Regions from separate parts of the Homo sapiens genome. Here region 2 is linked to region 1. Evidence: fine-mapped expression QTL. A gene starts in region 1. The other region holds a variant in brackets. All regions are shown on one strand. Distances are between the middles of the regions.

Region 1 (14,714 bases):
AAGTTAAGAGTACTTACAGGTAGTCTCCAAATTTTAGAGGAACCAGGTGGAGATAAATGAACATGCTCCAAATTTTGTTTACAGTAGTATACCTTACTCAATTATTAATGGCCATTAATAGTTTAAAATAAGTTTCCTTGACTCTGAAAAACAAAACAAGGATCAGCAATATTCCAAGCAAAAGTTAAAAAGATTACTTAAACTTTTTGAATGCAGTCCACTTAGTTAACTCTTGTTTTGCTTAATATTTGTGAACATGTCAGTTCTATAACTGTCTTTATTTTTACAGTGTCTTGCTGTTTTCTTCAGATTTTAATCTTCCTTTACTTTTCATTCTGTTTATCTTCTATTTCAAATCTTATTTATCACAGCCATGCAAATGACTCCAAAGTGTCTATCTTTAACCCAGTGTTCATTCCCAAGCTTTAATCACATATTTCCAATTGCTTTCTAGACATTATTAGACATCTTATGCCTCATGCTGTGAGATTTATCTGACTACTCAAATAATGTATCCATTCTGTGACTTATGATAGCACTCACCTCGCTTGATACTTGGCAATAGCCAGTGTAGGTCCTCTTTGCATGTGAATAGGACTGCATGTCTCTGAGTACAGGAATCATGTTTTGTGCTTCTTAGAAGACTTCTGGGTATCTTTAACTCTACCACGACCACTTGAATACCTCCCAAGCCAGGCTTTCTTAGATTCAACTTTCCATATTATCTCACGTATGCACATCGTTTAACAAAAAAAAGATTATATCTTATATTGCTGTCCTTCATGGAACTTAGCATAGGGGTTGCTCATAATAGGTGTTTGTTAGATGATCATATTGGTAAGTAACTGGCAAGTGGATCCTTTTAAGTTTTTCCTTGGTAACTTAAGAGCTTAAACTTATACCACATAATTTGGTGGCGTTGTCTCCTTACTCCCATACCTCAAAGCGTCAGTAAATACACTGATATTTACCTTTCAGGACAAGAAGCTAATTGCTAGTATGAGTCATATTAACTTAAATTCCAACAATGTGAGCCAAACTGTTATTTTACTTTTCCTTTTAGTCTTCATCTCAAGTCACAAGGTAATATCAGTAACTAAAGTATAAAATAAAATTATAGTTAAGCTTTATTTTAAAGTGGAATGAGCATTCAGTCCTCAAAGTAAAAACATGGGCATAATGGGAAAGAAGCTCTTTGAAAGAGAATAGCATTGCCAGTAGTCTAGCACTTTTATTCAAGATTGAAGAATGCAGTGAACTACATGATTCCAGGATCTTAAGTGTAATAGGAAAGAAATTATGTCATTTTGAGGTGAGGAGAAGTTTTGGTTTGTTGGCTAACATCTATGGCAAGGCATGCAGATTATGTCAAAAGCTAGGGTGTTTTGTTTTGCTTTGTTTCTCATCCGAAATAGAAAGCAGATTTGCCCATTATATCAATCATTAAACCAGAAATACTACCTAAAATTAGATTCCTTACACATATTGGAGAAGAGACTGTTTTTTCTCCTTTTCTCTGCCTTTTATACAACGTATACATTCCTGTTGTAAAACACAAAGGCAGATTTTCAGTATATGGGATTAAATATGAACTTTCCTCTTTACCTTCCCAGTCCTTTTCCTCTCCCCAATCTTTCTCTGTATGTATAATTCTGTATCAGTGTGAATGTGTGGATATATATTTATATTATTTCATAATAAAATGGAATCACACTGTAGGTATATTGTATGACTTTCTTTTTTCTCTTAACAATATAATTTAGAATTTTTTCCATTTCAGTACATATTTGTCTCCATAATTCTTTTAACTTTTCTATAGTATTTCACATTGCGAATGCACCATACTTCATAAAACCATTTTCTTACTGATTAACATTTCCAACTCTTTGGTATTAAAAACAGTGTTGCACAAAAGCTTGTATACTTATCTTTGTACAAATATGCTTTGGATAGATTGCTATAAGTAGAATTGCTGGGTCAAATTTAAATTTTACTTAATATGCCAAATTACCCTTCAAAATATCTTTATCAATGTGCACTTCCTCATATTGTGTTTGAGAATGCTTGTTTTCCTACATACTCCAATAACACTGGACATTACTGGTGACTCACTGCTTAACTCAAAGTAAAAATAATAAAAGCAATGTAAGTTGGTAGAGAGACAAATGCAAGACGAAAGAAAAAAATAAGTTCTAATTACCTCATCTTTAACATGGTAAGTTAATAGATGATGTCTAAGATTAAAACAGGTGATTTAGAAAAAAGAAGAAGGAAGAAGAAAACCTCACATAAAATGACTCCAAGAGGGGTCTTGTAGGATCTAATACCTCTGTGGGAAAGAAATAACATGAGGTTTATTCATTTTTTACTTGTTTTTTATTTCTGCTAAATTTAAATTAATTTAATTTAATACCTTTTATAACTTACTCTTTTTCTTCTTCCTCTGTGTATGTCTCTCACTCAATTTTCATTGTATTTCCACACATAAAGAGATATCACTGGCTATTTCTGGATAGTGGTACTTGGATTGCTGGCTGCTTTCTTCTTTGTCCCTTTCTATGCTGTTTGAATATTTTAATGAGTATCCATTATGTTTATTAAATCAACAAAGGTTTTACTATGAAATCTAAAAATAAAAACATGAAAGAAATGTTATACATGTGTGTATATCTACATATACATACACATGTTGTAAATCCAAGAAGTACAGAAAGATACAAAATAAAATGTGAAAGCTTCCTACCCTTCCCGCTCCTTACCCCATACCTTCTCCCCAAAGGTAACTGCTATATGTAGTTTCTTAAAATTATTTTTATTTTACAAGTTATGCATATACAAAGTACTTACATATATATATAACACATATTCCTTTTTATTTACACTCAATTACCCATACACTGTTCCATACACTTTTTTTATTAATATGGTATCTTGGAAATCTTTATACATCAGCACTTACAGACACATGTCTGCTGCTGTTCCTTGAGGCCCCATTCATATATAGTGTTTTCAATACATCTATGAGTAGTGAATTCCAGAAGACCAATGAGAGTACAAAGTAAATGGTTTTTTAAAGCTGCCAACCACTTACGCTGAACAGATGACAGAAGGAAAAGGCAACCCATAGTTTCTCCTCCTTTCAGTCCTTCCTTACTCTTCATCAGCAGGCCAAAAGTAGAGTATTGGTGGAATATGCACATATCAAGAAATAAAATTTTTAAAAATTGATTTAGTTTCATGCCGCATTTCCACTGTTTTAGTAAGAACAAAATACATATGCATGCGTGTACTGTGAAATACAAATTGTACAATTTCAATGATTCTACATACATCTTAAATGCTGTTATATTTGTTTTTTATCTATAATTTTTTTGTTTCAATAGGTTTTTGGGTAACAGGTGGGGTTTGGTTACACGAATAAGTTCCATAATGGTGATTTCTGAGATTTTGGTGCACCCGTTACCCGAGCAATGTACACTGTACCCAATGTGTAGTCTTTTATGCCCCACCCCCACACCAACCCTTTCCTCCAAGTCCCCAAAGTCCATTGAAACATTTTTAAGCCTTTATGTCCTCATAGATTAGCTCCCACTTATGAGTGAGAACATACGATGCTTGGTTTTCCATTCCTGAGTTACTTCACTCAGAATAATGGTCTCTAATTCCATCCAGGTTGCTATGAATGCCATTATTTCATTCCTTTTTATGGCTGAGTAGTATTCCAGAAAATATATACAACATTCTCTTTATCCACTTGTTGATTGATTGGCATTTGAGCTGGTTACATATTTTTGAAATTGTGAATTGTTCTGCTATAAACATGCATGTGCAAGTATCTTTTTCGTATAATGACTTCTTTTCCTCTGGGTGGATACCCAATAGGGGGATTGCTGGATCAAATGGTAGACCTACTTTTAGTTCTTTAAGGAATCTCCACACTGTTTTCCACAGTGGTTGTACTAGTTTGCATTCCCACCAGCAGTGTGAAAGTGTTCTCTTTTCACCACATCCATGCCAACATCTTTTTTTTTTTTTTAATTAAAGGCCATTCTTGCAGGAGTAAGGTGGTATTGCATTGCGGTTTTGATTTGCATTTCCCTGATAATTAGTGAGGCTGGGAAATGCTCTTATATTTGTTTTAAAACTGGCATTGTAGGGCCGGGCGCGGTGGCTCATGCCTGTAATCACAGCACTTTGGGAGGCCGAGGCAGGCAGATTACAGAGTTTGAGACCACCCTGGCCAACATGGCAAAAACCCGTCTCCACTAAAAATACAAAAATTAGCTGGGCATGGTAGCAGGCACCTGTAATCCCAGCTACTTGGGAGGCTGAGGCAGGAGAATCACTTGAACTCGGGAGGCAGAGGTTGCAGTGAGCCAAGACTGTGCCACTGCACTCCAGCCTGGGCAACACAGTGAGACTCCATCTCAAAAAATAACATAACATAACATAACATAACATAACATAACATAACATAACATAACATAACATAACATAACACTGTCATTGTACAACATGAAGATGTATGGTAAAAATCATTCTAATAATTTAAATTATAATCTTTTCTTTGCTTAGAATGACATTAAACAGCAAATAAAAAAATGACAAGTCAAAAGAGATCACAAAATAAAGGAAAAAGTTTTATTTTAATACCTTTAAACAGCACTTTCCTTTTGCTCTTGAACAAAGGGCTCCATATTTTCGTTTTGCATTGGTCCCTGCGAATTATGTAAGTGGCCCTGTTTATCAGTCTAAAAACTGAAAGGAAGTTTCAGTGAGCATGGGAGACTTTCAATTCTTGCCTTACAGCAGCATGGCAGACATTGATAGTTGCTTACCCTATAACTATTCTCTTTCTGCCTTGCTAACAGAAACCCCATTTTTGTTCAGGATGACAGTAAGTGCTGTTTAAGAAATAAAGAAAGATTTAAAAATAAAATACTAATTTCTATTATGATTGTATACTTTCAACTGAATTTATATGTATCTATATATAGATATATATAGATATATAGATACATATATATGTATTTTTGATATAGATTTTTTTAAAGATATAAAAAATTGAAATACTTATTTTTCAACAGGGCACATTTCATTTATCAGTCTCTAATGCATTTACGGAGAACTAAACGACCCAGTTCTAGCTAATGAGATGTAAACCAAAGTTTACTACGTGGGGTTTATGAAAAAGCTGTTTTCTTGATTTAAGGAGTAAGAAGTAGACTCAGTTGGCATGTACTTTTGCCTTTACTTTTCATCCTTTTTCTGCCTTAAAAACATATTTAATGCCTAGAATTACAGGAGCCATCTTGAGACATTAGGATGAAAGCTACATGATAAGAATAGAAAAACAAAAACACAGAAGACTGCCTACCTCTGAACTTCTTAGAGGGTGAGAAAATAAATCAGTATTTGGGTAAGTCACTACAGCTAGGTTTCTGTTACTTGAGCTGAACATAAGCAGTCCTTAATCAATACAGACTAGATAACATGAAAACTCTTCTACTACAAATACTTAGAAATGCTGGGTAAAATGCAGCAAAATAAATTAATTAATTAATAATAATGCATACTTGAGCTTACAAAAAAAAAGACAGGGAAATATTCAGGTGGCAAAAATAAAAAAAGAAACTGGACACCAGGGTCTTGAATACAGAATATGACCCTGTCTGGAGAGGAGAAAGGATTGAATGAGGATGGTGCTTGAATGTTTAAATCCATGAGGTGATAAATGGATTTTAAAAATGTGATATATGTATACAATGGAAAACTATTCAGCCTCTAAAAAGAAGGAAATCCTGTCATTTGTGACAACATAGATGAACCTTAAAGACATTATGTTAAGTGAAATAAGCCAGGCCCAGAAAGATGAATATTGCATGATCTCACTTAAATATGGAATCTAAAAAAGTTGAACTCAATAGAAGCAAAGAGTGGAATGGTGGTTAGCAAGGGCTGGGAGAGAGTGAGGGAGCTGGATGACGCTGGTCAAAGGATATACAATTTCAGTTACATAGGAGGAATAAGTTCAAGAGATCTATTGTACAACATAGTGACTATAGTTAACAACATGTTGTATTCTTCAAAATCACTAAGAACAGACTTTAAGTGTTCTCACCATAAAAATAAGTATGTGACGTAATACATATGTTAAGTCACTCAATTTAGCCATTCCAAGATGTATACATATTACAAATCAGGTTGTATACAATACAGTATATACAATTATCATTTGTCAATTTTCATTAATTTTTTTTTTAAGATGGAGTTTCGCTCTTGTTGCCCAAGCTGGAATGCAATGGCGTGATCTCAGCTCACTGCAACCTCCTCGGTTTAAGTGATTCTCCTGCCTCAGCCTCCCGAGTACCTGGGATTACAAGCACCCACCACCACACCCGGCTAATTTTTGTATTTTTAGTAGAGACAGGGTTTCACCATGTTGGCCAGGCTGGTCTTGAACTCCTGACCTCAAGTTATCCACCCACCTCAGCCTCCCAAAGTGCTGGGATTATAGGCATGAGCCACCGCGCCTGGCCTTTATAATTTTTAAAAATACACGGTAACTTGTGATAAGACCTTGGGCCCTTGGTGCAAACAGAAATCAGTTAACTGTGAGCACACCCTGTCCCCCAACTTCATGACCTCACACACACACATAAGTTAAAAACCCATGAAATTCTGTACCCTCAATGAAAGGGTAGACTAGATAGAAGCTTTTCTTCTGGCATAGTAAGAAGCTTTTCTGTCAAGGCACAAGCTCTGAAAGAGAAAAAAACAAGGAAGATCTCTCTCCCTTGAGAATTTGAATCATAGTTTGTACTCCCACAAATCTGGGTTCAAATTTATAATATCTGAATGATCTTAGAACTTCTAAGCCAAGAAAGAAATTCATGTAAAAATTGCTCACTAGCCAGTGATAACCTTAGGGGTCTCTGACAGAAGAAACATTTTTTTCTGTATCACTAAAAATGAGCCATAAAAAAAAAAGCTAAAAGGAATCAATGTACAAAGCAAAAGGAATCAATCCACAAACAAAAAGGTCATCAAATACACAAATAGAAGTATTAGACCCCTAAATGCAAAAGGATTTATCTATATGATATCATTTATGCAGTTTAAAAATATAACATAGTAGTACCATTCATAGATACATATAAATTCAGTGAAAGTACAAAAACATAACAGATATTAATCATACCAATTTAAAAATAGTGGCTAACTCTGGGGAAGGAATAGTGTCAAGAAAAGCCTGAATAATTGATCCAGACTGAAGGAGAATTGAGCAACAAGCTAACTGGATGCAGCACATGATCTTTCTTGGCTGGGACGTTTTTGCTGTAAAGACATTGGAATAATTGGCAAAGTTTGAGTGGGGTTTCTAGGCAAAGGGTACACAGAAGTTTTTGTACTATTCTTGCAACAGTTTTCTTAGTTTGTAAATTGTTTCAAGTTAAAAAATTTGTTTTTAAAAAGAGGATGAAAATGAAAAATAGGAAACAGTTTCAGAGAAGAAATTGCCAGGATAGACCAATTGGTGGTGGGAAATAAGAGGAAATAATCAAAGGGGACTCAGATTTCTGGCTTAGGTGATTTGGTGTGTATGATTCAATTTATCAATGTAGGAAACCCAAGAAAAGAAGAATTTTCAGGAAAAGCAAACTATAACAGACTTGCCACTGGAAATATTGAATCTATGGATAAATAGTTGGAAATTTAGGCTGGGGGTGATGGTGTCACAAAAGAGCTTAGCACTGTAAACATCTTGATTTGATTACTTTTTTCACTTACTAAATCATTTGGGAATTCACTATGTTGCCTGTGTAAACCATAAAATATATAAAAATAAATAGGAAACGGACACTGCCCTTAAGGGACTGATATCTGGTAAGAGAAGTAGAATCAGTCTGTAGGCAAAGGGTAGAGACTGATGGAGCAAGTTCTAGAGGGTGACAAATTAGTTCTCAACCTTGGTCACACATTAAGAACACCTAGAGGAACTCCTAAAACATCCCAATGCCCAGTCCACACTCTGGGACTGGATCCAGGCATCAGTGGTTGCTTAAACTCTCCAGGTGATGCTGATGTGCAGCCAAGATTAAGGGAGCAGTGGCTCTACTCAGAACACCTGAGACACCTATTCCTTTGAAACATTTGGCAATGATGCAGGAAAGAGTGTGGAGAGAACAGGAGGTGGAAATAAGGAAATTTGGTTGAAGAGGCTTCTGCCAAACAGAGTGATGATTTATATTTTCTCTGTAAAGAAAGCGAATCAGCTGGGTGCGGTGGCTCACACCTGTCATCCCAGCACTTTGGGAGGCTGTGGCAGGCGGATCACTTGAGGCCAGGAGTTCGAGACCAGCCTGGCCCACATGGTGAAACTCTGTCTCTACTAAAGATATAAAAAATTAGCCGGGCGTGGTGATGCATGCTTGTAATCCCAGCTACTTGGAAGGCTGAGGCAGGAGAATCCTTGAACCCAGGAGGCAGAGGTTGCAGTGAGCTGAGATCACACCATTGCACTCCAGCCTGGGTGACACAGCAAAACTCTGTCTCAAAAAAAAAAGTGTCAAAGGCTAAGAATAAGGATATATGAAAATAAGGTAAGTCTTTTATGGAGAATGGGGAAACAGGATTACAGCTACAGAGGGTGCAAAAGAAAGAAGTAACATTGTTGTTTTCCCAAGACTGGGAAGATTGAAACACTTGAGGATGAGGATTCAGGGACACCACTGTGTCCACCATTAAAGAATTTCCCCTTTAATGGTGGACACGGTGGTGTGATCCTTTTGTAGAGACGAGCATAGGTTATGGCAAATATACCTACTTTAAAAACAGTGCTCTGGGAAGAGAGTAAGTGCTTTTCCACATAAAGATCTAAAATAGACAATAAATGAGAAATAGGGTTTTTTATTATATATTCATTTTTCCATATTTCTGGAAAATGAAACAGACATGGAGTATTTCAAAGCTGGGAGAGATCATTATATTGGAGTTACCTTAGAAAGAGGGGGCTGTTTCTGCCACCACAACAAAGAATGAAACAACACAAATATTTACGTTTTCTTCTTGTCCTCATAATGCTTTTACTGCACTCGTCTTTCAACCTTTAACATCTACTGCATCTGTGACTGTTGTTTCAGTAAAACACGGAAGCTTGAATGTAAGCTCATTTCATTGCCTGCTGCACAACCACACAAAACAGCATTTTCTTATTCTTGAAATATGATAGCAACGTCTCCTTCCATGCTTGTACCTGTTTTAATTCCTTTCAAGCAGAGGCTGTATCGTGAAAGATGCTTAAGAAGTTACTTGGAACGACAGGATTTGGAACGGATGTCACATCATATTCTCATTTGTTATTAAAATTAGTCACGCTTAATTGTTAAGGACTATCCTGTGTCGCTCGCCATCTTTGTGTCCTCCACCTGGCACTTTGCTTTCACACAGTAGGCACATAGCGTTGAGGTCCCGGAAGGTTGTCAAGTAACCGGCCAGGAGCTTGAGGGCAGGACATTGTCTCCGACACTTGATTCAGTGCCTGGCACACAGGAGGTATTCAATTATGCTGAATGAATGAGCAACCGGCTCGGTGGGGGACAGTAAACCCAACCCTATTCCGCGAACGTTTGCTGAGCGGCATCCAGGCCTCAGGGACCAAGTGTGTCGCGCGGTGCCATACCGTGACCGGGACCTGTTATTTCTAATGTCCAGATATTGTAATTCTATGCTGTAACTCCTATATTTCCTCTTAAAACAAAAAGAGAAATGTGGGTCGTGTTCGCTCTGGGTTCTCGTTAAGTGCAAGCATACAGAGGCGCCGAGACCCCGCGGCTCGCCCTCGCCGCTTCCTCCACAGGAGCCGGGCGGAGCTCCCGGCGCGCCCCGGGGCTGCGCCGCCGCAATCCTCAAGGGGTCGCTGTTCCCGCGATAACCTCGAGAAAGGCTCCGCCCCGCGGCCCGCGCTTGTTTTTCCCTTGGGACCCGGGTCCACACGGCGGGGTCGCCCGTCCATCTCCGGCTCGCCCGCGGGGCCCATCGTCGACGTTAGCGGCCGTTCTCCGAGCCGACTGACCCATCCTTGGCGCTGCCGCCGCGCGCTTGTTCTCCTCCCTCGCCCCGCCTTCATCCTCCCCGTTCACGGAAACGACAGCTGCGGCTGCGGGGCTGGCGCCGCCTCCCTCCACCTACCACGTCTGCCCTCGCCGCTCTAGCCCTGCGCCCCAGCCCGGCCGCGGCACCTCCGCCTCGCCGCCGCTAGGTCGGCCGGCTCCGCCCGGCTGCCGCCTAGGATGAATATCATGGACTTCAACGTGAAGAAGCTGGCGGCCGACGCAGGCACCTTCCTCAGTCGCGCCGTGCAGGTACCCTGGTGCTGGGGGGAAAAGGGGTGGCGGCGCCCGGGAAGGTTGAGGGAGGGGACCGCAGCTCGACGCGGCGCCCCCGGGCCTCGCCGACCACCCAGCGGGCCTGCTGCAGCCAGAGGCCTGGGAGATGGGCGCGGCCTGGTCCCCTCCCCGGGCCCGGCGGCGGATTTCTGCCCCGCTCCTGCCCAACCGCCGCTCCCTGGGAAGCGAGGCGGGGTGGGGACGGGGCCGGGAGCTTCCTCCCACCCCTGGGGAACACTAAGGCTGCACTGTCCGCCTTTCTGATACCACGACGTCAGTGCTCCTGTGGCCTCCACCCCGGGGCTGGCGGAGGCTTGCGAGTCCTTTGCGGTAACCGAGACACAGGCCATTCTTGCACTACCCCCCACCCTTTCCTTTCGTCTCTCACCCTCCCCTCGGAGTCCAAGAAGGGAGTTTCCTTTTCCTGTCCTTCAACCCAGAGAGCTGCCAACACAGTTCCCTCCGGCCCTCTTTCTCCCTGAAAGGACTGTCCTGGGCTTGGCAGCCCGCGGGGGAAATGGAGATCGCCAGTTGGCGTTGAGACTTTGCCAAGACCACAAGAAACCTAGGGTTGGGGGGTTTTCACTCTTTTTCAAAATGGGAAGCACCAGCTGTAGATCAAGGAGAGATGCGGGGATATTGTTATGGCTGTAGTCACAGTAGTATGTTTTAAATATACTTTAAGGGGAAAAGTTGACTACCTCTCGATATTCTACAATCAAGGAAGTGTCAGTACTAAGGAACTTGGGCCGTTTCCCACAGTCATCACCCATGTTATGCCAACTCAGTAAATCTGTGAACAGATGTAAATTTCACAACATGAATTATAAACAATCTGGTGTTTACGGTCACGGTAGCAACAACATTCTCTTTTGTAAAAAGAAAACAAAAATAATTTTCTAATATGCATACCAAATTGGTGCTGAAATGTAAATCTGTTCTGTGGCTTTACTACTTTCCTTGCCTTTGCCCCAATTTTGTTGGCACAGTTGATCCTACATTGCACTATCCCTGGCAAAAGAGTAGTAGAGCTAGAGCAAGGTAATAGCTGCCTATATTATGAAAAACCTGTCAAGCACTTTGTAATGCATTTGACATATTATCTCCAGTCTTTTCCATAACTTTGCCAGATAGATGTTATTAACCCCTTTTATATATGTGAGGAAGCAGCCTTACTGAGGTTAAGAAACTTGCACAACTAGTAAATAACCAGGTGCTGTCTGACCTAGTACTCCCAGCTGCTTTTTCTTCCGGGATAAGCATTCCAGATTTAAGATAGCTAGAATAATAGAATGCTGTGGCCTAGAGAGACCTTAAAAATCATCTGGTTCAATCTGAGCATTTCCATATCAACAAGCAAGTAACACTTTAGAGATGGTAAATTCCTTCTAGCTTTTGATTTCTAAGTTCTAAAATCTGCATGGTGAGTAATAAGCTAGCTGCCTTAACCCTTTTCTTCCCTTCCTTCCCTAAAATATGATATATTGTAGACGTTGAGCCTTTATAGTTAAAATAATGTTTTGATTTAAATTCACTAGCTTCTAATAGTTCAAAGACAAGGTGCAAGAAGAATGAGTGATTGAGGGTGTGAAATGAATTTTGATGTGTGAGACACTTGTACACTTTTAACATTGACTGCAATAGAGGACTAGAGCCCTTGGTATTTTTGTTTGTCCTAGTGCTCATTACCTATAATTCTAGATGCTTATGAGGATTTGACACTGTATAATGCTACTCTTTTAAATACAGTTAAATATGTTTCAGACGTATAACTCACACCCCTTAAAGAGGACACATTTACTAGAATTTAGTCTGATTTAAATTGTGGATAGACTCAATTTAAAAAATTAAATCTAGCAAAGCTCTCAAAATGTGTACTTCCCAAAGAATTTTAATTCCTTGTTTCAAATTCTTTAGGAAAAAGTTTTAAATTTTATGCTAATCTGTTAGCCATCAAATAATTTTCTTTTCAGTTTTAAATATTTAAGTGTCTACTGCATGTCTGATGTCTGCTTGTGGCTACTGTGGACACTGGTGATACAGCAGTGAATAAAATCAGCAAAGTGTCTGCCCTCCTGAAGCTTACATTGTAGCGGAAGATAAGCTTGTAAATACATCAGGTGGTGATAAAAATCATGGCCAGAAGAATAGAATAACGCAGAGATGGTGGTTGTTAATATCTTTATTAGTATTTTCTAACATTAGTATCGTGTATAGATAGGATGGTCAGGGCAAGTCTTTCTAATAGGATGAAATTCAAGAGACCTCAAGGAAGTGACAGACCTAGTTTTTTTTGGAATAAAAGTATTTCAGGCAGCAGGAAGAAGTACAAAGACTGAAGTTTCAGGGGCATTAAGGAGACCAATGAAGGAGCTGTGGCCATAATACACGTAAAAGGCGATTGTAACTTAGATTACAGTGGTAGCAGTGAAGGTTCCAAATTATCCAGTATTGGCTGTTGGATTGGCTGTGAGGTATGAGAGAAAGATGAGTTAAGGATGACTCCAAGGTTTTGGCTTGAGCCGTTTATTAAGGGAAAAATTTTAGGAGAAACAGACTTCTTTAATGTGTCTGTAATTGTTAGAGATACATACTGAAATGTTTATGGATAAACTTATATCATATCTGAGATTTGGTTTTTACAGGGTATTTTTTTTTTTTTTTTTTTTTGAGATGGAGTTTGGCTCTTGTTGCCCAGGCTGGAGTGCAATGGCGCGATCTCAGCTCATTGCAACCTTCGCCTCCCCGATTCAAGCCAATCTCCTGCCTCCGTCTTTCAAGTAACTGGAATTACAGGCAGGCTCCACCACGCCCAGCTAATTTTGCATTTTTAGTAGAGATGGGGTTTCACCATGTTGGTCAGGCTGGTCTTGAACTCCTGACCTCAGGATCCACCTGCTTCGGCCTCCCAAAGTGCTGGGATTACAGGTGTGAGCCACCACACCAGTTGAGATTAGCGTTTGAATATTTCAAAAGAAAAAAACAGAAGTCGCTGAAACAACAGCAACGGAATGTTGATAGTTGTGGAAGGTTGGTTATGGGTTCATGAGGTTTCATTATACTGTTATACTTTTGTATGTTTGACATTTTCCATAATACTTTTTTAAAGATAAAATTTGTAAGAAAAAAAGGATGCTTCTAAAATAGAACATGTGAAATTTGGAATGCTGTGTGGTAGTTTTCAACAAAACACTGCTTTCTCATCTCAGTATTTATTTCATCACTGAGTTCCTACATTAAATTGCATTGACATCAGTATAATGCCAAAGTACCAAGTTTCATGCTAAGAATAGCTTAAGAGCTATGCCAATATCTCTTTATAAGCAGTAAGAACAGTAGAGAGAGAAACATTCACGTTTATAAATAATAATTTTCATTCAAATCAAATTGTACCGTAAGGAATATGCCATTCTTTGGTTGGCCAACGCCATACATTGTTTTCCATTTTACTTAAAAATTTCTAAGTTAAAAATTAAACATGTTTCTTGTTTTAAAAAAAGGTCAGCTCAAACTAGTAAAGCACATAGATGCGTCCCATCACCACTCCACTTCCCTCCTTTTAAAATTTGTTTATAAGCCTTGGTACTTTAAAAAGAATGTTAGACTAGAATGTATAAATGAGTAGGAATGTTTATTCTTAACTAGCCCATTTGGGTGCTTGTTTTTAAGTACCTCAAGATGGTAAAATACAAAAGTATCAGGTAATTCACCCTTGCTTAATTGTTATTTTACTAGAGTTTTAAATGCCATTTATTCTTAGAATCCATCTTTTTAGTCCAAACTTCTTAGTTGAGCATTAAATACTCCCTTACAATCTGGTCCTTTCTCTCACTTATATAAACACTGTATTCCAAATTATTTTTTAATTTCCAAAATATCTTCTACTTATTTTAGGCTTTTGTTCATATGGTTAGACTCCTCTTAAGTGTCCTGTCTGCCTATTCTTTCCTTTCCTTAAGATACAACTTTATTCATCTCCAAAATGGAGAGAGTAAAAAAAATTTTAAAATAAAAGTAAAATAAACTTTTTTTAAAGATATAGCTTCAAATCCATCTCAGCTGATAAGGCTTCTTAGACCACAAGAGCTTGCTGTGAAATCGTGAATCATTTTCAATTCCAAATGATGAGGTGGCACTTTTCTTCTAATGAACTGTTATGTTAGATCTCTTGGAACTCTAAAGTTCTGTTACTCTGACTTTCTTTAATAAGTTTGTATGTGCTAAGGCATCAACTCTGTTTCTTATTCCCCTCTTACAACATCTAACATGGTTCATCTTTTATATCATTTTAGCCAGGCAAATTACCATCCATATGTGAAGTTTAAT
Region 2 (16,202 bases), 52 kb after region 1:
TTTAAATCAGACCCCAGGTTTAACCTTCCCACAGTCAGTATAAATCATTTTTCAGAACTTTCAGCTTTCCATCAAGTGAAAGTTGATTTTAGTTACCCAGTAATGTACAGAAACCTTCAATAATGTTAAGCTTCAAAGGCTTCTGGTACGTTTGTCTACCACAGAACCACCACAATATATATGCTTGTTCTTAGGTTTATTGCTTTTTATTTTAATGGGGTTTGGTTGTTTGGGTTTTATTTTGGTTTTGGCTTATTTTAAAGTCAAGTTTAGTTTTTACTCAGGTAAAGGCCTGAAGTTTCTTGGGCGTGGAAGAAAAAGCTTGGGAAGCCTATTAATTCATGGTGCAGTTCAGAATTGTTTAAATAAGCTCTGTGCCACTGAGCTTAATCTGAAAGTATAGTGACATGTGAAGGATGCACATATGAATGAAAAACTAAAATAATTGTAGGCTCTTCTATAAATGAAAAAAAAAGTGATTGGATTGTGTCTACCTTTTTCCTCAAAGTAATCTAACCTAAACGGTCATGGTGTTAAAACTTTTTATGGTGCTAATCAGAAAAATTGATGTTGCAAGAAATGAGGTCTCAAAAATGGGAATGTGCCTCCTCACTCTGCGTCACATGGGAAATAAATCCTGAGGCCAGGATCACCAGTGGGGTAGAGTCATCTTCATAGTCTCCTGTTATCCTCCCCCTGAACAAAGAACAAAGTGAGACTGGGAAGCTAGTGTTGGGGAAACATTTCTGGGATAAACTGTGGAGTGGAGAAGACAATGGAGGGCAAGGCAAAAACCCACAGACTTGTTTACCCATAGAGGCCCCACTCACCTCCATGCTGACAGAATTCCAGAAAAATTCCTTCCCTATCTCCCAAACACCTGAAATTCTGAAATATTGCCCTACTATTTAGCACTTTAAGCTTCAGTGAGGTGCTGTAATGGAGAGATAGCTTCATAGTTTAGCCTATAGCCAACTTTGCCTCAAGACCTCCAGATAAGATGAAGTGGCTTTTACCTCATGTGAGTCTCAAACGCTGGAGAGAGAGTTCCACAACCACCCCTGCCCTTTCTCCCATATTACGCTCATTAGAAAGTCTACTCAGGGCTGGGTGCCGTGGCTCATGCCTGTAATCCCAGCACTTTGGAGGCTGAGGCGGGTGGATCATCTGAGGTCAGGAGTTCGAGACCAGCCTGGCCAACATGGGGAAACCCTGTCTCTACTGAAAATATAAAAATTAGCCGGGCATGGTGGCGTGCACCTGTAATTCCAGCTACTCGGGAGGCTGAGGCAGGAGAATCACTTGAACCCCAGAGGCAGAGGCTACAGTGAGCCAAGATTGCACCACTGCACTCCAACCTGGGTGATAGAATAAGACTCTTGTCTCAAGGAAAGAAAAAATGTCTACTCAGTAGAGCAGTGATTGGCAAAGTGTGAGACCCCAGACCGGCAATATTGGCATCTCCTGGAGACTTGTTTAAAATGCTGATTACTATTTTCAAGAACTTTCTACCTTCATTTTTACTTATTTTTTGTTTTCAAGGGCTCATGGAATCAGTCTTCCATGTGACAGCTTTTTAAATATTTTAAGACAAAAACTGAGTCTTCTAATCTTAATTGTGTTCTAGCAGTAGTCATTGTAATTATAGTTATTTTTATAATTTATTTGTTTAGTGTATATCTGTCACTCTAGAATGTAGGCTCCCTGAGATAAAAACTATAATTCTTTTGATGGCAGTTACATTCCCAACTCTTAGCACAAGATCTAGGACATAGTATGAACTCAATAAATTTTTGTTGAATGAAAGAAAAATGCAAATTTATAAGCCTTTTCAGAGACCTACTGAATCAAACTCTGAGAGTGGAGCCCAGCAATCTGTTGTAAAAGCTGTTTGAGTAATACTGTTGCACTCTAAGCTTGAGAACCACTGCAATAGAACTAAGAGAACATTCATTTCACCTTCAGGCCTATTCTCTGACATCACTTGAAAAATCCTCTCTGCCTTCTGTAACCCTTAACCAACAACAGTGCCCTGTCCATGTAGGGGAAACTTCTGGGCTGTATTACAAGTGGGTAGGAAGGTATAAGGATATCATAGTGGGAAGTATTGCTTAGAATGCCAGTACTTGTTTGCTGTGGAAGGTTTCTAGGAATGGATTGCTTAGTCTAAAGTAAGCACTACCACCATCCACGTTTTCACTCAACACAGTGCCTTTTAATTGGTGACTAACATCAAAACACCTTGACAAACCGTTAAAACAGTATCAGAAACCATGTGTACATCCCTGTGCCTCTTAGATTGCTAAGTTCTGCTCTCATTCTTACTTCAAAGGACACTTTTTAAAGAATTGTTAATGCTTTTTTATAATACAAGTCATAGCCCTGTTGGCAAAAAGAAAAAAGATTCAGTGAGAAAGAAAAATCACTGATAATTCCATCATCCAGGGAGAACCACTGTTATTTAAGTATATGGCCTTCCAGACTTTTCTGTGCATTTATAGATATTTTTAATGGGATCAAAGTGTACATACTGTTTTGTAACTTTTTTTCACTCAACAATACCATGACTGTCTTGCTGTGTCAAGTATATTTCTACATCTCTTAATGGCTGCATGATATTCCATCATATGTGCCACATTTTATTAAACTACTGTTCAATTTTTAGGTTTCCAACTTTCATTAATAAAGTGCTTTAAAGAACATTGTGTTGCTAAATCTCGTATGTGTTCATATTTTCTCACGATAAATGCTTTGAAGTGGAATTGCTAGTGAAGAGGGTATGCCAGTTTTTAAAAGCTTTTGTTACTGCCATGTTGCCCCCTAGAAAACTCTAAGCAATTTATACTTTTATCAGCAGTATATGAGAGAATACTGTTTCTTTTGGAGGGCTTCCAACTAGAATGTTCTTGGAGTCTTTGGTTTAAAAATAAAGGGTAAGAGGGAGATAAAAAGATCCTGCAAAATTAAAGTCCAGTCTTAAATGTTTCTTAAATTATGACATTCATTTACTGTTCTTCCCTCTTTATCATATATTTTGTATTACTTTGGAAATGTTTGTAGTACTAGTTGCCTCTTGCTTTTATTCAGTCTCCTGGAAGCATTATTACCTTTCTGACATTTGCAAAGACAGTAGAAGAACAATCTTAAGTAGACTTGAATCTTGAGGTATCTTTGATGCAGGTGTACTGTTGATGGATTTAGGGAATGTAGCCGTAGTGGGGAAAGTAGGATTTTGGAAGGTAGGCAGAACAGTGGCTCTCCCACTTGTTTTCCTGGCCTTTTGTCAGTCATTAAACCTCTCCCACTTTGAGCCTGCTTACTCATCTCTAGAATTAGAATACTATAAACCTACCTTGTAGCATTGAAAGGATTAACCATATTATGAAGAGTGGCTGGCACCTAGTGGATAATATTATGGCTTACTAGGATTTATAGATGAGCATGTTAGAGCATTTGCTATTGTCAACCTCTGGAGTAAATATCACTGCCATTGCCAAAGAAAATCTTCCTTGAAAGCTGTCACAGTGAATGAGCATTGTCTTGTATATCCTTATACCTACGCAATCCTCATTCTTATGGAATCTGGCTCATTTTTTCCAGTCAGGTATTCAAGTAATGTAACCAGATAAAACTCTCAGACAAGATGTACAGTGGAAGATTTCAACATTACCATGCTTAACAACAGTGTACGAAAGTGGTAATCACAGTCTTTTTAAGTGGTAAACCTTGCCAAACTGCCCCTTCTGATACTCCCCCACCCTTGGCCCACAGCTGATCTCAGTGCTTCGGGGGGCTGTACCTCTATGTGAGAGCCTGACATAGGACAGGTGACTCAGCTCAGTAACAGTATTGTTAATTAGCTAAGTCTCAGTAGCATCTCCAGGACTGGAGATCACAGAATTGATTCATCCATAGTGAGAGAAATGTATTTAAAGAAGTATCTGAATTATAAAAGTTGCTCAGCAGTATTCAAAAAGATAGATGTCCCAGGGTTGAGCTGCAGTCATCATAGCAAAACCCCACAGACCAACCCATTTTAATATTTGGATGAACCATAATAAATTTAAATTAACATCTGTTGATTATAACTCAAACTGCTCAACCAATAAAGAATGAGTAGTAAGAGGACTTAAGGGGGTTGTAAGTAAGGAAGGCTATACAGGAAGCTTCAGGCTTACGAGAACAAGACGAATAGCTAATTGGAGGTGAGATGGACTACCATTATAAGCAACTTTTCTGAGAGTCTGATGCACCAGGGTTTAGGGCACATGTTTCTGCTCAGTCTCATGTTCTAGTAAAGTTCTCTGAAGCTTGAGCTGTAGTAGGCAGTTCCCAACAACCAGGCATTTTGATACCTGCTTGCCTTTTCTATGTATTTTCTTGTGTTCAGCTTCACCTGAAGATCCTCATTTGTCAAGAATAAGCTCAAACTCTCATTCCTCCATGAAGAGATTCTGGATTCCGCAGGCAGAATTGCATACACACACACAACTATCACATGCATTTTGCCTTGGATCACAATTACTTGCCAACTTGAAGGACAGGATTTTGTGTCCCCTGACACCTAGCACACCTAAAGCTGAGTTTTGGCAAGCTCATAGCTTGCTTGCAGCATTGTATTTGCAAAAAAATCTATTAATGATTCAAATTTGGTGCTATTATGTGTATTTGCCCTAAGAAACATTGGCTGTTTAGGACACCAATATTACAGAAAGCACATATCTACTTTTCTTGGAGAGTAATCCCCAGAATCTATCATCATGGTTATTACTTCATTGGCTCTGGTTAATTTTACGGTGCTCATCACTGACTCATACTTTACAAAACAGTAATTTGTTACAGCATGGACTTTTGCTGGCCACATCTATACTTCAAATTTAGGGTCAGTCACATCAAGGTTGGATGGGGGTATTTCCATTGTTGAGCTTTTCTATATAGATGTCTTCTGTAAAATGGGCTAAATTTCCTTCCTTTCTCCTTTTCTCTGCCTCTTTTCCACCCTTCCTTTTTTCCATTTCTATACATTCTCCCTCTCCCTTCTTTCAAAAAATTTACATGAGAAAATGTATAATAGAAGATCTTGATCAATTGATATTTGTGAATGACAAATCTGACCCAGATTTCTGAGAACCAAAGAAAGATGTATGATCTGGCTTCAGATTGACTGTTCACATATAGAAACATGCTGGTTGCTCAGGAGACAGCTACTCATAAAGAAGCACTCATAAAGAGAGCACTGAGACATCAACACCAAAGCGGAGTTAAGAGGCCACAGTGCTGGCACTGATTCATGGATTAAATTGTACATGACTGCTGCATTGAAGTTTTCATCAAACTGAGAGTATAAATGGGCACAAAATTATTCACATTAACACCCTGAAACACAATGTCGCTGAGCCGTGGCCTGTCCGATCATCAGCAAGTGGAGGATTCCCCTCGCCTGTGTATGTTTTAGAATCTCCAGAGACACATCCACAGTCAATCCTCTTCTTTCTACCTGCTAGTGAAGACAGGCCTTCTATCCCAGCTCACACTCCTAACCTAATTGCCTCAGAAACTTTCTGCGGTCACTGCCAGTGAATCTGAGGTTTAGCATGCTGAAAGTCGGTAAAATGGGAAGGTCACCACTGGCATCTGATAGCCCATTCTACAGAAGTGGGTATGGAATGCCTGCAATAAGGTTGCTCATCAAGATTCAAAATCTTACCTCAGTTACATGATAGAGTTTTCCTCACTGATACAACAGGGGCCCACTGCCTAGGCAACCACGTGGTGACAAGTATGTTACCCAGACGTTGTGTTTCTTGCTGACCTCTAACCCACCCCCTTCTTCAATGCTACCTACAGCCCACAGTGCTTGGCTCACTGCTGCCTCAGACAGAGAGGAAAGTCAGAGTTCTATGGCATGATGAGAGCCATTTCTTCCCTATTAGCACTCAATCGCAGGCTTCCCAGAAAGCACAGCTCTCTTTTAAGTACAAGAGCTCTTTAAATTTACACACACAAAGCCAGTTCTCCCAGGAGAAAGCCCTCACCAGATTGTCTGGTGAAGATAAATTCCACTGTTGGACACTTTGCAGTCCTGGAACCAAGGCTCCCCTTTGTCCCATAGCTCCCCTTGGTGTCAGGGAGCTGCTCACCTGTCTATTTCTACCTTCATGATAAAGTCCCTTTTAAGGGCCGTATTACTTTATCCCACACTCTGGCATTGATTAGTACCATCTCATGGCATCCATATGCTTCAATATATTTGGACCCCAGTGTTAGGAGCAATAGAGTCCTACTCTATTCCTGAACTATAAAATGTTACTATTCAGCCCAGACAGAATGTTTTATTGCAAAACCACCTAGCACAGAAATTGACTATAGACTTTGGAATCAAAAAAGCAAATTTTCAAATCTCAACTCTACCACCTTATTAACTGTGTGTTCAGTAAGTGACACAACCTGAACCTGTTTCTTCATCTACAAAGTACAGATTAAAATGCTTACCTCCTAGGTTTGTAGCAAACAGTACTTCTCAGACCAGCAGCATCAGCATCACCTAGAAATTTATTAGACATGCAGTCTCGGGCCGCTGCTGAATCAGAAACCCTAAGGATGGGTCAAAGCAATTTGCGTTTTAACAAGCCCTCGGGTGATTTGATGCATGCCAAAGTGGGCGAAACACCAGTTGCAAGGATTAAAAGAAATAATGCACATAAGGGCTGGACTCAGTAACTGGCATACAGTAAATACTTAACAATTTCTAACTACTATTTTGTCACTATTACAATTTTTAAAGTAATGAATGAACTACACACTTTTCAGGCAAAGTTTCGTATATATTTCTCATAACAAAGCTTTTCATAGACATTTGGCAGCTGAAGGCTGGAGGTTAAGATCTCAAGAATATGGAGTACAAATCCTTATATTTTAACCAATCATGTAGAAAATGAGTTTAAATTCTTTTCACTAAAAATTGACTGAAATCTATATAGAAAGTCACTCCATTTCTGAAAGAAAAAACAGTACTTGGAGAAAGGGTCAAGATTTTTCTCAGAAAACAGTCAAGGTCTGCTTCTACACATGGAAAAATGGGACAATTGAAGCTTCAATAATGGAGCTTCCAGCCCCATTATTGCCACAGCAACTGCCACATCATAGAATATCACCATGATCATATTCACCTGAAGTTTTTCAAAGCATATGCTTCCAATTGCATGGTGTGATTATAAAACAATTTCTATCATATACTCATAAAATGACCAGCTTTATTTCATGTAACTTCCTGATGAATGCCTCAAGATAAATTTGTGTTATAATAACCCTAGGAAACTAAATGAATTTACCTTCTACCCAGGCTGTTTGAATGTAAATCAATTACATGTTACAGAAGACTGAAATGATAGTGGTTTTATAATCGTCCACAAGCCATTCTTTCTGAGAGCATTTACCTAGCAAGTCCAGTAGAAATTAAATTTGTGGTTGCGTACCTTCAAGCAAATTGTTCACTTAATTTCTCAGCCCCACAGATTTTTTTATCTGTAAAATAAAAGGATTAAACCAGATGATCTCTAAGGTCCATCTAGCTCTTGCTTCCTAACATGTTCTAAACAAGCCAAAGTTGTTCATGTTTTAATAATAACTAATGTTAAACCCACAATTATGAATTAACTTGAACAGCATACACATTTCTACTGGCAGCTCGTTGATGGGGTTGTTTTCTTTATATTTTAGAGTATAAAGCTCTTCAGTCTGAGCTTTCTACAAAAGGCTGAATAACACCTTGTGAGAAATTCTTTAGAAATCCCTCTCTACCTGGACTGACTTAGACCTCAAAAGGACCAACTCTGTGCTCAGACATTCTAGTGAATTCTAATGAGTATATATGAACAGTGGCACTCACAGTCTTAGGCATCATTGGGCTTTTACATCCCCTTGAAAAAGTTGCTAACACTTATTGAGCACTTTATGTGCTTTACCTTCTTTAAACCTGGCAAGAAAGTATACTTTCCCCCATTCTACAGACGAGAAAACAGAATTTAGAAAGCCACACAACTAGAAAAATGGCAAAGAAGTCTCATTGCTTGCCTTCCCAACTCCAAAGCCCAAGCTCTTAATCAGTGTGGAACACAGACACCTATTTTTGGAATGTGCCCCCTACATATGGTCAATGGTCCATTATTTCCTGCACTCTTCCCAGGTTAGTACTTTTCTTGGGGCAGAAAAAGTATTGCTCTTAACATAAAGCAGCTATAAACTGCTGCTTAACCAACTAAAGAAACCTACAAAGGTCATCAAGCCAAGCAGGGAGCTGCCAGTGCCATCACTGCCACAGCTGAAAGTGCAGAGAAATCAGTGTTGGTTTAAGTCAGGGCTTCTCAAAGTGCAGGTCCTGGAATCTGTCAGGGGTGGGACTCTGCCATCTTGTGGTTCAATAAGCTCTCCAGATGATTCTGATGCACATGTTTGAGAGCCACTTGTTTACATATAGCAGAGAAACCACCTGTCTCTCACCTCAAAGCTGACTCACCTGCAGAAACAATGAAAGATGATAATGACAGCCCCCCCAAAATACCTCCAAGCTATCAAATGAAACTAAAATGTAATATCATTTTACTGACTCTATCCAATAAATAGACCACTCATTAATGAGTAATTTGGTAAGCACGTGAACATGCTCAGGATATAATTTTTCCAGGAACAGGGAAAAGAGTCCATGGATTGGAAGTTTATTTTGAAATTCAGCTGTAAGGGAATACGTTCTATGTATCTGTCTTTTATCAAGGTAAGACAGCAATATAATTTTATTGTTTCTTTCTAGCCAGTGTCTCAGTTTCCACTGAGGGGTTTATATGCCCTATTCAGCAGGACAAGAGCACATTATTTTAAAAATAGATGCCAATCATTGGCATTTACCACATGCCAGTCACTGTGTGGGGTGCTTTACACATTCTCTAATTTCATTCCTGCAACAATGCTGCGAGGTAGAGATTGTCCTTCCTCTGCAGATGAGAAAACCAAAGTTTAGATAGAGACATTAAGTGTAAATCTGCTAAGCTCATTTCAAGACTCCTGAATCTCTAGAGAAAATAGATTTCCTGAGTAACATCTCCCTTTTCTTCTTTCTCTCGATGCTAATGCAACATTCCTTTACCCCAAGACTGCCAGGCACAGGAAGCCAGTGCTCTAGACCTTCCTTCATGGCCCATTCCCACTTTTCCTTTGACTCCCAGCATGAGCCCACTCTAGCTAATTTTAACACCATTTTCTGCAAACTTGAGGTCCCCAACACCCGGATAGCTGAGCTAGGTGGGCTGCTGAGACTAAAGGATCTATGGGTCCTGGGGGAGGAAAAGAATGCCCCTGGAGGGAAAAGGAAGAAGGGCAGTAGGTAGCAGAAGGCGTGGCTTGGATGGGGGAAATGTGTCAACAGTGATACTGACCATGAACACACTGAACAACTAGCAAAGAGAATGGCTGAAAATATGACTGCTCAATGGAGGAACTAAGGAAAATATAGTCATATTTGTAAATAGTTTATCATTTCTGTTTCACTGCCATACAGCACAACAACTAGGATGCATATTATTAAATGGGTTGGATTAACTTTGTGGGTTTGGATTATTTTGCTGGAATAGTGACTTCTTTACTACTGTGACAATGCTATACTACAGAGTTTGCTGAACACACAGCACAGCTGTCTGTTCACTGCTTCAGAATTGGAGAGACCACTGGTCATATCTATATTTCCCTAGTTTGGAGAACATATATCCATACATTCCAATGCAAAATGCAAAAACAATGACCTGAGTTTGGTAATAGATCCAGAAACTTGTTAAGCTCTTATCAGCCATGTGTCTGTATTAAAAACCACCTGGGCCAGGCGCGGTGGCGCACGCCTGTAATCTCAGCACTTTGGGGGGCCGAGGTGGGCGGATCACGAGGTCAGGAGATCGAAACAATCCTGGCTAACACGGTGAAACCCTGTCCCTACTAAAAATACAAAAAATTAGCCGGGCGTGGTGGCGGGCACCTGTAGTCCCAGCTACGGGGGAGGCTGAGGCAGGAGAATGGCATGAACCCGGGAGGCGGAGCTGGCAGTGAGCCAAGACCGCGCCACTGCACTCCAGCCTAGGCGACAGAGTGAGACTCCGTCTCGGAAAAACAAAAAAAAAAAACAAAAACAAAAACAAAACCACCTGGCTGCAGTTGAAAGATCACCTTCTATTTGCGGTCATTCACTATATTTGCGGTAACTTCACATCACTGATCACAGGAACTACAGTAATGGGCAGGGTGGCTGAGCAGGGATTCCTTTGCCTGTCTTCCCCAGTCCGTTCCCCAGTTCCTCTCTCCCAAAAGTCCTATCAACAGAGACCTTGCAACTTGAGGCAAAAAGT[G/A]AAAGAATAATAGCTGCAGTAACTTAAGTACTTGCTGCATACAAGGCGCTGTGCTTAAAGTGATTTACATTCATTATCTCATTTTAACAACCTGAGAGGTAGGTATGACTCTTATCTGCGTTTTACAAAAGGGGAAGTGAAGGCTCTTAAATCACATAGCCTGGTAGAGTGGTAGAGCCTGGGCTTTGACCCAGGGCTCCCTAACTCCAAAACACTTGCTCTCAATGTCTACAGAGGACTCCCCAATGCACTATTATACCATTTAACTTGGCTAATGGCCAGTGTTTAAAATGGATAGGAGCAGAGACTTATCCTATCTATAACCAAGGTAGAGTGCAGCCTCTGAAATACAGCTGAGCAAACAACTCAAGCACAGTTTGATGTTCCTGCCCAGTGGGTGCTATTCCAGGAACTGATATCCCTTCCCTCATGTTCCTTAAACATATGTGACACCCACTATTATGGTATTGACAATGGGCTGAGAACCCCCTTCTCAGTGTAAGCAGGGACTCTTTCTAACCTCTCCCTGGTATAGGAAATGAGCACCTCTTCCATTCTGTCTCCAGTCTACTTAGCTCTGTCAGTAACTTGTCCAAAGCTTCTTTGGAAACTCAGTTGATTGGAAAACAGAGTACATTTTATATAATATAAATGGTGATGAGGCTCTTAGGTCAGTGCACCAAAGCCTACTTAATCTGCAATGTGCCTGAAAATTGATGGTGCAGCCGAACCCAGAACAGTGCAGAGTTGTTGAAGACCCCTAAATTTCTCCAAGCCCAGGCTTTTTTATGCTCCTCTAGTTCCAGGGCAGTAACCAGCATGTAGTAGGAAATAATACTAGCTCGTGTTTTTTGAGCACTTACAATGTGCTTGACGGCACTGTACACCCATGATCCCATTGGACCCCCAAGGCAGCTCTAGGCAGTAAGCACAATTGTTAGCCTCAAGTAACTGAGGCGTAGAGAAGTTAAGTGACTTCCCAAGGTCACAGAGGTGACAAGTGATGGAGGATTAGAACCCAGGCAGTCTGGATCCAAAGTCAGTGTGACCAACCACCTGTGGGCCTTTAGTTGCCTGAAAGCGGGGAAGAGGACCCGAGGCTGGGCTGAGGCTCTGCTGTGTAGTCAGCTCCCACAATGCACACATGGAAATCACACACACAAGCAGGTGGGGAGTGGGCTGGACAGGAGGTCTGGTGAATCCCTCCACAAAGGTGAGGGAGAATATGACAGAGACATCCACACAAGCTTCGGTGCCTCTAGAAGAGGAGGAGGTCCGTGAACAGGAAGGTGTCCGTGGGGTGGGCCAGGGAGAAGACAGAGCTGCTTGGACTGGAGAACAAACAGCTTGCTCCATTCTCCACAGTTTCTACTGCTGCTTTGAGGCATGACCTTGGGCAAGTTCGTCCCCTTCTGCGTAATAGTTCCCACCTCTAGAGTCTTTGTGCGGATTAAGTGAAATAACTCACTTTGCACGGTGCCTGGTGCCCACTCACTGAGAACATCCTCTTGTGATTAGGACCATTATCATTACATCAGAATGTCATTTGACTCTGAACACAGCCAAAGCCCACGAAAAAGCCTTTCGCAATTGGCCTTGCTAAGACAGGCTTGAGGGTAAGGAGGTTTTGCCCCCTACACTGGACACAGCGCTGAAAGGCAGCCGCAGGACCCCACCTCCCTTGCCTCTGCTGATGAGGGCCGTAGTTCCAGTTTCCTTTCCCTGCCAAGCCCTTACCAGCACCACCAACAAGAGGCGTAATAAACTGGCTTGAGTCCCACCTCTTCATTTCCGCTTCTCTACTCTCAGCAGCTAGGGCTAAGAAGCTGTGAAATGAAGGAATGCCCGTTGGCAAGAAGAAAATAGTCACCAAGCCAAGCAGGCCCTGAATAATCAGGCTGCAGAACCGGCCATAATTTACTATAAAACAGTCTCTACTGGTGACGAGTGGTGGGGCAAGAACAGAGGAGAGAAAACAGATGCCCCTTGAAGTTTTTCACCAAAAATCTAATAAGCCATGACTTATGAATGCGATGGTGTTTTGCAATCCACACTGCAATTCTTCACAATGTCTAGGTCCACAGCCAGCTCTCTGTGCTGAGAGGAAGGTTGCTATCTATACTACCACTGGCAAAACAAAAACAAACAAAACTAAAGGCAAGATGGTTGGGTCCTAAACTTAACACTTAGTTTCCCCATTTCTGTTATATATTAGCTGAGGAGGCATTTGGAAGACCCCACAAAGACATTATATGTAAATCAATAACAATTTTTGTTTTATGTTCAAACCATGAACACTGACTAGCTAATTTTCATGGCATCCCTATAAGTGAGTTTTATGATCCTGCTCCAGTTCAATTCTTCTTCAATACTATAATCAGCTTAGATGATTTTTTCATGTATTTCCATAAAATGATTTTTGCCAGCACCTTACATTTTCATCAGATTTTCTTGTCGTAGCTGGATACGGCTGGCACAGACAGTTAAGTGTTGTGAAATGGAGCGGACTGACAAGGATGGAGAATCAAACAAGGCATTGGCATGGGCCAACGTGGAGGGCTGCAGGGAGCAGGCAAGGGGGCATGACCTGGCTAGAAGTGCCTGGGAGAACAGCCTAGTGTTTGTCAGCACAATCTACAAAAGCAATAGCATAGATTAAAAAGCAGGAGCCCAAGCAAGGGTCTTAATAGCTGAGGATATAGGACATTTGACCGCTGTAGAGGATTGTCTCCAAAAAGTGGGTAGACACACCCCTTACTCTTACCTCTATGAGAGGAGTGTCCTTGGCTGCCCCATTGATGGTGGGCTCGGCTACATGCCTTGCTTGGTCCTATGGGATGTTGGGATGTTAGTAGGCATGATAAGCAGAGGCCTGTAATGTGTTTGCACAGTGGGGCTTGCCCTCTTGGGCTTCTGCCAGCACCATGAGAAATGTCCGCCCTGGTAGCACTAGTTCAAACAGGATGAGAGACCTGTGGAGCAGACCTGGATCACACTCACAGCTCAGAGCAAGCCCAGGTAAACACATTTATCAAGCATATTTTTAATGACTTCTTATCCTTCTAGTTGCAACTTACATGTCACTGTCTCAGAGGTCCCTGCCCTGACTCTCCTCCGGGCTAAATTATGCCCCTGTGTTAATTGTGTTTCAATGAAAGAAAATAATTAATTAGGAAGAAATTATTTGCTTATATGTTTGTTTCTTCCATTAAATTACATTCCTTGAAAGCAAGGAGCATATCTTATATGCTTAATATATTCTAGGGATTGTGCTAGAGTTCAATGAAGTCTATTAGGCTCTTAGTAAATATTTGTAGAATGAAATATAGAAAGCACTCCTGGAGGATGAGGCCACAACTACTACAGTGGTGACACAGAGCTCTTCTCTCAAGGAGCTTTGCATCTACAGGGCCAGACCATCAGCCACTGCACAGTGATAGGCTAGAGCTACTTAAATCCTTTCTCCCTGTGGTCAGAATTGACCTGAGAGACTGAGACAAGGTGTCCAGTTAGCTATTGCCATGGAACAAATTTTGACGAAATTTAGTAGCATCAAAGAACAATTACTATCTCTCAAGGTTTCTGTGGATCAGGAATTTGGAAAGAACTTGGCTGGGGCCGTTCTGGTTCAGCGTTTCTCATGAGGTTGTAGTCAGGTGGCAGCTGGAGAAGCTGGAGGCTGGCCATACATCTCTTTATTCTTGTAATCTGAGGGCTACTTCCTGTGGTCTCTCTGCACAGGTGAGTTGAGCTTCCCCCTAGCATGGCAGCCTCAGGGTAGTTGGACCATGTTCATGGTGGCACAGGACTCAAGTGCAGGTTTTAACAGCAAGCAAAGTGGAAGTTGTATCACCTTTTTCTTTTTAATGTGGTTAAAAACACATAACATTATCTGGGTGCGGTGGCTCACACCTGTAATCCCAGCACTTTGGGAGGCTGAGGTGGGCAGACCACCTGAGGTCAGGAGTTCAAGGCCAGCCTGGCCAACATGGTGAAACCCTGTCTCTACTAAAAATGCAAAACTAGCTGGGCATGGTGGTGGGCGCCTGTAATCCCAGCTACTCAGGAGGCTGAGGCAGGAGAATCGCTTGAACCCAGGAGGCAGAAGTTGCAGTGAGCTGAGATCATTCCACTGTACTCTAGGCTGGGTGACAGAGCGAGACTCCACCTAAAAAAAAAAAAATAATAAAAATCTTCCATCTTAACCATGTTTTAGTGTATGATTCACTAGTGTTATGTACGTTGACATTGTTATGCACCCAATCTCCAGAAATTTTACATCTTGCAAAACTGAAACTCTATGCACATTAAACAACAACTCCCCATTTTCCTCTCTCCTGAGCCCCTGGAAAACAGTGTTCTACTTTCTGTTTTTATGTATTTGACTACTTTAGATACTTCATACGAGCAGAATCATGCAGCATCTGTCATTCTGTGACTGGTCCACTTCATCCAACACAATGTCCCTGAGGTTCACACATGCTGCAGCACATGACAGGATATCCTTCCTTTTGAAGGCTGAATAGTATTCCATTGTGTGTATATGCCATATTTTCTTTATCTATTCATCTGTTGATGGACATTTGGGGTGCTTCCACCTGTTGACTATTGTGAATAATACTGCTATGAATATAGGTGTGCAAATATCTGTTCAATTCTTTGCTTGTTGCATCACTTTTTATGACAGCCTCAGAAGTCACAAAATAATACTGCTTTCAATGTCAGAAACCCACCCACATTTTAAGTGAGGGAGCATAGATCCCACCTCTTGATGAGAGGCACATCAAAGCCACATTATAAGAGGAGCATGTGGAGTAGGAGATATTGTTACAGCCATCTTTGGAAAATACAACCTTCCATGCAAGGATCCAGCTAGAAATGGAAGGGAGCAGAGGGAGAGATTAGGGAAGTGTTGTCAACCATCAGAGGTTGGCATTCAGACATCTGCCATACCAATGAAGGTCATGGCAAAGACCTTGCTGGCCACCAGCCTGCATCCTGTACAAAATAACACTCCACCACTTTCTATCTCCTTACCCTGCTTTATTCTTCATAGCACTTACCTTCCCCTCGGTACTTAATTGTTCAATTGCTTATTATATGTCCCTCTCCACTAGAACATAAATTCCAAAAGAACAGGGACTTTGTCTTTTTGTTTGCTGCCATACACCAGAGTCTAGCATGGCAGCTGACACAGGGTAGGCACTCAGTAAAATTTCATTAAATGAATGAATGGATTCAAGAAAGATGAAAATTTGATTTGAGTTCTGTGTTATAAAGTGGAATCAGGGTCATCTGGTGTAGTCAGACAAACCTGCACGTAACTCCTAGTCTCAACCCTTACTGTCTGTGTGGTCTTCAAGGAGCTATTTAAGAAGAGAAAAGGGTGGGTAGCAAGGTAGCTGATGCTGAAACTCATCATCAGTATAGTCACAGCCAACAGAAACATGGGGTCAAGTGACAGAATATTGACCAAGGGACCCCTCAGAACCTATGAAGTCCACCTCCCTCATTCAGCGGAGAAGAAAGCTGAGGCCCAGGGAAGTGAAGATTCCTACCCAAGACCACACAGAGGCAAGACTAAAACTTGGGGTCCCAAGTCCTCCGACTCATCAAATGATTGGGTCCATCAGAACTCAAAGTTGCAAATGATAGAAATGTATCCCAATAACTAGGCTAGGCACAAGGAGAAGTCTCAGCCCCACCCATGTTTTCTCATGAGTGTGGCAGATGCCCTTGTTGCCCTGCATCTCATCCCGTCACCCACACCTGCAGCTGTGATGGATAGTGTCACTTCAAGTGTACCCTGACTGTTCT

Which allele goes with the higher level. Alleles are on the strand shown, and positions count from the first base shown. SD is a standard deviation of normalised expression in the study named.
For the expression in skeletal muscle of the gene that starts at base 9,969 in region 1, allele G in region 2 goes with a higher level than allele A (small effect, 0.15 SD a copy in GTEx).

What was found. PIP is the estimated chance that this variant, and not a neighbour inherited with it, causes the effect.
Region 2: its variant is the best candidate, but not a certain one, in a credible set for the expression of SH3GLB1 in skeletal muscle (GTEx, PIP 0.63).

Annotation. Positions count from the first base shown.
Region 1 is chr1:86,694,608-86,709,321 of GRCh38, forward strand. It overlaps SH3GLB1 (SH3 domain containing GRB2 like, endophilin B1), which reads left to right and starts at 9,969. Exons shown (of 9, transcript NM_016009.5): 1 at 9,969-10,364. The coding sequence starts at 10,293. It overlaps CLCA4-AS1 (CLCA4 antisense RNA 1), which reads right to left and starts at 9,886. Exons shown (of 5, transcript NR_135837.1): 1 at 9,000-9,886; 2 at 3,092-3,155; 3 at 2,414-2,626. RefSeq lists enhancers at 9,173-9,242, 9,807-10,308 and a silencer at 10,133-10,622.
Region 2 is chr1:86,745,483-86,761,684 of GRCh38, forward strand. SH3GLB1 (SH3 domain containing GRB2 like, endophilin B1) reads left to right here. Exons shown (of 9, transcript NM_016009.5): 9 at 1-2,702. Among named protein-coding and RNA genes, the nearest start is that of SH3GLB1, 49 kb to the left of the region's middle. RefSeq lists enhancers at 8,327-8,386, 10,058-10,558. The variant G/A (reference allele first, on the strand shown) is at 10,386.